Linked DNA regions of Homo sapiens. The protein of the gene in region 1 purifies or fractionates together with the protein of each later gene. This does not show direct contact. Each region holds a gene or a part of one and is shown on either strand. Other genes may lie near its edges.

Region 1 (3,824 bases):
GAAGCAGATATGAGAGTCCAGCTATCTTCTTTTTTAATTTTTTGTTTTTATTTATTTATTTTTAAGAGACAGAGTCTCACTCTGTTACCCAGATTGGAGCTCAGTGGCACAACAACAGTTCACTGCAACCTCAAACTCCTGGCCTCAAGTGATCCTTCTGCTTCAGCTTCCTGAGTAGCTGGGACTACAGGCCTCTGCCACCCTACCTGGCTAATTTAAAAAATATATTGTTTTCTAGAGACAGGGTCTTGCTATTTTGCCCAGGCTAGTTTTGAACTCCTGGCCTCAGGTGATCCTCCCACTTTGGTCTCTCAAAGTTCTGAAATTACAGGCGTGAACCACCAAACCTGGTCTCAGCTGTCTTCCATTAAGCCAGATGTTAATGAGATTTGTAAAAAATCTATATGCAACTCCTTTTTCTAATTTGTTTTTGTTTTGGAAAGTCATTTTTCAATACAAATGTGGTATTTAAAATGCAATAGGATTATTGTTATTAAATTAATGTTTAAAAATTTTTCAGTTTTAATTTTGATACAGAAAATATTTCTAGATATAATTCATGAAAACAATCAAACAAAAAGAAATTCTCAATAATTTTTTAGACTATGAAGAGGTCAAAAGACCCAAAAATTTGAGGCCCCCTCTCTGTAGAGGCCCCTCCCTGACCTCCCTATATAAAATAGCATTACCATCTCTCCCTGTCTCTATGCTGTGTGATATGTACCACCTCTTGGCATATTTTATATTGATCTGTTTATTATTTGTCTCCCTCCAGTGGAATGTAAGCTCCACAAGGGATAGAAATTAATCTATTTTGTTCATTGCTGTTATTCCCAGCATCTAGAACAGTGCCTGAATAATAGTAGGTATTAAACAGACATTTAGTGAGTGAATAAGTTAAAATTTTTCTCATAGAATCCTGTTTTCTATTTTCCTCTGCCTTGAATTCTACTTGTTTGATTTGATGCCTTTCTTACATGGTGGTAGATTTTCTTATTAACTTTAAGATTTATTATTGATTTTATTTTATTGAACTTATCTTTAGAAGAACTTATCTCTCCTGGCTGTTCGACATATTCCTTTGATAGAAAAGATGTCCCTAAGAAGCAGTTTCACCCCTGCTGCCAGGGCCTCACAGGTTTCCCCTGTTAAGGACCAGTTTTTATGTTAAATTCTGAGCTCAAGATTTCTGCACTGTATGGATAAGAGAATCTCAGGGTTCAAATTCTCAGGATATGACTCGTTTTCCACTCATGGCTCAATGGGATATAGCTCACTTATACACTGCATCTCTAGGGCAACAGGTGGAGTTTTTTATCCATCTTTCGTAACTGGCATAGATATTTCTCAATTCCTGGCAGTACAATGAGTCCAACCCTGGCTCTCTTTGCCTGTGATTTTTGTTCTTATGTGGGCATTTAAAGCCTAATCCCTAATGCCTGTATCCTTTCTGAAAGATGCTCCTGTGGGCTTGAATTTTATCACCATCCTTACACTGAGCTGTCTATTTGTTTCTTGCATGAAGATTTCCCTCCTCCTTTTGGCTTAGCTATGTAAATGATAAATATTTTAAATGTAGTTAGATTTTATCTAGCATTTCTCTTTGTTTGGAGTAGAAAGTAAGTCCTTTCTACTTTTGCTTTTACTGCCATATTAACCATAATTCTGCACTATAAAACTCTTCAATGCCTCACGTTGTCATTCTTGAGTTCTTATTTTTTTATTTGTTTTTTGATGAGTCTGTAATTGTAATTTTGTAGGAGGAAGTTGTGAATGACAGATCTTCTAAGCTATTAATATCTGAAATTTCTGTTATCTTCACACTTGCATGGAAACTTGTCTGTACAGAATTATTGAGTCAAACCTTTTTTTACAACATTTTGTGGATCTAGCACTATTATATTCTGAAATTTATTAATGCAGAAGAGAAGTATTGAAGTCAACCTGGTTTTTAAAAATCCTATTTTAAGGTAACCTGTTAGGTTTTGTTTTCTTCCCTGATTGCTTTTATGATTTTAAACAATCTATAATTCCAAATTTGGTACAGATATGGTTTTTTTTTTCTGGAACAAGGGTGAGCCTTCCATTTTAACCTCAGCTATTATTTCATAGAGTTTGTTTTCAATACACCCATTTCTTATAATTTAGAAGAGCTTTATTCTCTTTTCTCTGAATTGAATCCTCAGAAGTCTGGGAAAACTTTGTATCCTTTACATCCCTAATTCTATTTTTTGCAGTATTAGTTTTAGTTATTTAATGCTCTCTGCAAATTTAAATCATGTGTTGTCTTCTCTTTTTTAACACTCTAATTTTTAAAAATTTCAGCTTGTTCTGTTTTTATCTTTCTCTGCTATGTCCTTCCTTGCTCTTGTTTTCTAGTGGACATGTCTTTGTTTGCATCCTTTTAAGAACAGTAAGTAATTGATTACAATTTTTTTTTCATCCTGTGCTCTTCACTGTAATCTTTTGGATAATTCTCTTTATCTCTTCTGTTAACAGTATTTTTCATAGGGTTCATGTTGTTATTCTGTGAGATTTGTTCAGACCTGCAATTTGCCTATAAATACAATATATAAATTGTTTTTTGTCCTGTTCTCATTTTCTTGAATACTGGAAGAATCAACTACTTTCTTAGAGCTAAAGCTGATTGACAAGCTGATGTGAGTACCCCCAGCCCAATTTCTAGTGTTCTTGTAGTGTAGCTTTATTGCCTGAGATATGATTATTTCTTGCACATGTGCCAAGTTTTCTTATTTGTTGAGGAAGATGTATGTTTTAAAGAATGTGTGACATTTTATAGTTCTTCCATTAAAAGCAGTGCATGAATAAACACTACCTCAGCATCCCTTTGTTTTGTATCCTAAGATGTGTGGTGATAGGTAAGGTAAGGTACTGCCACCTGAGTTGTCAAATAACACAGAAGTTATCTTACTTTAAAGTTGCTCCCCAGGAAGAGTCTTTCAGATTAAAACGTATCAGTACAAGATGTTCTTGACCGGTCAGTATTTGTGCTTTGCTGGTCTTTCCCTAATCAGATTACTGTCTCGCTGAGATGAGCAGCTTTGGAGGAATAGGAGTTTTATTTGAGGAAAAGAGGAAGAATAATTTTGCAGTTTAGGGGTTATTTTGAAAAGAGTTGACTGTGGACTTTGGAACAGGAGGTGAGTTCTGAAAAGGTGAGTGGGAAGGATCAAAGGCAACTGGCGACTTACAGCTGTACCTGTGATCTGATGCTGATAGGAAGAATTTCTCGTGTAGGCTTTGTTGCATATATGGTCTCATGGATTGTTATTGCCTGAATTCATATTTCAAGATAAGTTAAAAGGCTGTATACCTCAGTTTCCTTTGTTCAGATGAGTTCCACAGTTTCAAATGTAGTCTAATTTCTTCTGGTTAAAAATTCCTCCCAAGAGAGATAGAGGAAGGAAAGGGAGAGATGGGACCACCACAGTGAGCAAATGGATCAGATTATTACTCTAAAATGTTCTTTTCGTTCTGAGCTCCCGCTCCTCCCCGTCTTTACTAAGATTTCTCGCTTATGTTCCTACTGGAAAAGTGGGTTTTATTCCTGGGAAATTCTGAGGCCTTCTACCATTATATTTGGTGAACATGCAGTAGATTACTTTTCAAAATTAAGATAGTTTGATTGTTTTAACTCTTTATAAAAGTAGTGTTTATTTATTGCAAATTATTCCAAAAATAGAAATTGGCAAAAAGCAGAGTGAAAATCACCTATAATTCCACCACACGGTTAACATTTTCATAGGTTTTCTTTCAAAATTGTTTAAATGGATTTATATTTTTCTTAAATAATTTGCTTTTTT
Region 2 (3,824 bases), on another chromosome or scaffold:
GGTTTACTACAAAGTAAAGGTGACTTTTGGGGGAGTAATTAAACTTTTATAACTTGATTATGGTGCTACTAGTGGTTACATGGCTAGTTTCATTTGTCGAAACTCAGAATTTGTACTAAAAAAAGGGAATTTTACTCTACGAAAATTATATGTTGATACCATTCAAAGACTGGCCAAAGCAAAACTAAAATAGCTAAATAAATAACTAAAACTAAAATATTATCAGGCAAAGTAGACTTCAAACAAGGAATATTATCAGAAATTGAAGAGGAATATTATATAAAGACAAACGGGTCAATTTACCAAGAAATCAGACAATCCTAAATGTATATGCATCCAACAACAGATCTTCAAAATACACAAATCAAAAATTGATAGAACTGAAAGTAGAAACAAATCCACAATTACATTTGCACACTTCAACACTCTTCTATCACCCTTCCAATCAGTAACTACATCAGTAAGAATATGAATATCTGTAATTGTAAGTATATACAGAACACTATCAACCAACTTGACCTAATTGACATTTACAGAATGCTACATCCTACAAGAGCAGAATACACATTATTTCCAAGTGTACATGGGACATGCACCAACACAGGCCACATTGTGGGCCATAAAACAAACCATATAAAGAATGTTCTCTACCCACAATAGAATTAAACTAGAAACCAACAAAGCAAAAAGATACCTGGAACTTCACAAAGTGGTTTTTCCAGAAGCAGAAAATTAGTACACACTTACATAATAATCAAACCCCATTTAAATAATTTCCAGGTCAAACCAACCTCCTAATATCTAATAACTCTATTAAATAAAAGCTAGATGTGACAGAACATTTAGACTATTACTTCTTTTCCCAACACTCATTTTGAAATAATATAGAATAGATAAAAGAATCAACAAGAGAGAGAAATCTGGCCAGGCGTGGCGGCTCACGCCTGTAATCCCAACACTTTGGGAGGCCAAGGTGGGCAGATCACCTGAGGTCAGGAGTTCGAGACCAGCCTGGCAAACACAGTGAAACCTCATCTCTACTAAAACACAAAAGTTAGCCAGGTGTGGTGGCGTGCACCTGTAATCCCAGCTACTCGGGAGGCTGAGGCAGGAGAATTGCTTGAGCCCCAGAGGCAAAGGTTGCAGTGAGCCAAGATTGTGCTACTGCACTCCAGCCTGGGTGACAGTGAGACTCTGCCTCCAAAAAAAAAAATAAATAAATAAATAAAAGAGAAATCTGTCTGTGCAAACATACACATACCATGAAACTGCATACAGACCTTTTTTCTGCCGGGGTTTTTGAGACTCAGTAGATACAGGAAATTGAGTTCTCTGAAATGAAATAAGTAGTCTATATTGAAGCACCACAATATAAACTTGCTAACTTAAAGAAGCATCCAAATAACAAGAATAATCAGTAGCTCACCAATTATGCAATTAATCCATTAAATCCATATTGTGATAGAGTTACTTTAAATATGGTTTAAAAAACAAATGTCAAGTCATACTTTTGCTATCCAAACTATTAACAATGTATAACACATATTTATAATATTTACAATGTGCATTTTTAATGTATAATTATAGTATATAGTAAAATGTGCATAAGAAATATACTCAGTTCTTAAACACCTCATATGAGTATTATACTTGATGCCATACTTCTCAGCAGCCAAACCAAAAAAGTGATCGCTGTTTGATAAAAGGAAGCTTATGAGATCATCTACACAGAAACTGTCTAGCACTCAATTCTAAAAGGGAGATAGTTATTTTCCACTATAACCTCATAGAAAACCATCAAATGAATTTTTCTTTTCTCAACTTCCTATGACATACCACAATATAAGCAAAAATAATGGCTCAAATTTTTCCAGATGTAATGAGAAACACCAATCCTTAGTTTCTGGATACTCAACAAATCCTGACCAGGTTAAATGAAAATAAATACATACTTAGATACATCATAGCGAACTGCACCAGAGACAAGAAGCAGCTCTTAAAAGCAGCCAAACAAGAAAACATATCACCAGATTACCAACAAAGAAAGGACAGTTATTTGAGAGGCCAAGGCGAGAGGATCACTTGAGGTCAGGAGTTCAAGACCAGCCTGGACAACATGGTGAAACCCCGTCTCTACTAAATATACAAAAATTAGCTCGGCATGGTGGCACGTGCCTATAGTCCCAGCTACTTGGGAGGCTGAGGCAGGAGAATGGCTTGAACTTGGGAAGCAGAGGTTGCAATGAGCCAAGATCGTACCATCGCCCCCCGGCCTGGGCAACAGAGCAAGACTACGTCTCAAAAAAAAAAAAAAAGGAAAGAAAGGCCAGACGCCGTGCCTCATGCCTGTAATTGCAGCACTTTGGGAGGCCAAGGCAGGTGGATCACCTGAGGTTAGGAGTTCAACACCAGCCTGGCCAACATGGTGAAGCCCCATCTCTACTAAAAATACAAAAATTAGCTGGGTGTGGTGGCAGGCACCTGTAATCCCAGCTACTTGGGAGGCTGAGGCAGGAAAATCGCTTGAACCCAGAAGGCAGAGGTTGCAGTGGGCCAAGATCACACCACTGCACTCCAGCTTGGGCGATAAGAGCAAAACTCCATTTCAAAAAAAAAAGAAGAAGAAAAAGAAAAACAAAAAAGACTGACAGCTGGCTCTTCAACAATTAAAAATGGAAGACAATATCACAATAAGACATCATAAGAATAATTACTCCAGTGTCAGGTACTAAGTAAAATGAATGTTAATTTAGACCAGAGGTCAGCAAACTATGGCCCACAGGTCAAATCCATCCTGTTTATTTGGTCTACAAGCTACGAATGATTTTTACATTTTTATATGGTTAAAAAAATTCAAAAAATAATAATTTTTAACACATGAAAATTGAGTCAAATTTCAGTGTCTATAAACAAAATTTGTGAGAACATACCCACACTCATGTTTACATAATGTCTATGGTTGCTTTTGTCCTACAACAGCATTGCTGAGTAGTTGTCAGAGAGACTCTATGGCCCACAAAGCCCACAATATTTACTATCTGGCCCTTTACAAAAAAAGGTTTGCTAACACCTGATCTAGATTCTCTCACCCATCAAAACTAATTTTCAACAACAAAGGCAAATTTTTAAAACTTTCAGAATTTGAGAGTTTTTAGATTCTCACCAAATAAACTTTTAATGAAAATATATTAGGAAAAAGAAAAATAATCCCAGAACAAAGGAGTGGAATAAGCAAAGGAATTGGTAAAATAAGCAAGTATTCTAAGCATCTACTGACTGAATAAAACAAACAAAAAGCATAATTTGTGGTGTTTAATTAAAATACATTAAGAACTACAAAACTAAACAACAATGGCATACATTTGCAGATGGCAATAGATGGTAGTAAAGCATTTGATGGTCCCTGTAGTAGCAACATTTAGGCCTGGACTTACAGTAAACATGTATTTTTTAATTTCTTTGGTACTCATTAAAGGAAGGCAAAGTATAACTTCCAAGGCATGAAATAAGAGGAGCAGAAAGGGAGGGGTAACAGATGGAAATTCAGTTTTTTTAAAAAAAAGAAAGGAGGTAGAAAAAAATGCAATTCTCCAGTTTAAGACAGATAGATCAGCCAGGTGTGGTGGCTCACACCTATAATCCCAGCACTTTGGGAGGCTGAGGCAGGAGGATCACACGAGCCTAGAAATTTGAGAACAGCTTGGGCAAAACAGCGAGACTCTGCCTCTATAAAAAAAACTTTAGAAATTAGCCAGGCATAGTGGCAGGTGCCCTTAGTCCTAGCTACTCAGAAGGCTGAGGTGGGAGGATCTCTTAAGCCCAGG

Evidence for each region.
Region 2: the proteins of CCDC172 (region 1) and BBS4 purify together in Homo sapiens (affinity purification with mass spectrometry; 2 studies listed by BioGRID and IntAct, with this or other methods). This does not show direct contact.

Annotation. Positions count from the first base shown.
Region 1 is NC_000010.11:116,330,687-116,334,510, forward strand, and holds part of CCDC172 (coiled-coil domain-containing protein 172), read left to right. Parts: intron 1-3,824.
Region 2 is NC_000015.10:72,692,685-72,696,508, reverse strand, and holds part of BBS4 (BBSome complex member BBS4), read right to left. Parts: intron 1,333-3,824; coding exon 1,281-1,332; intron 1-1,280.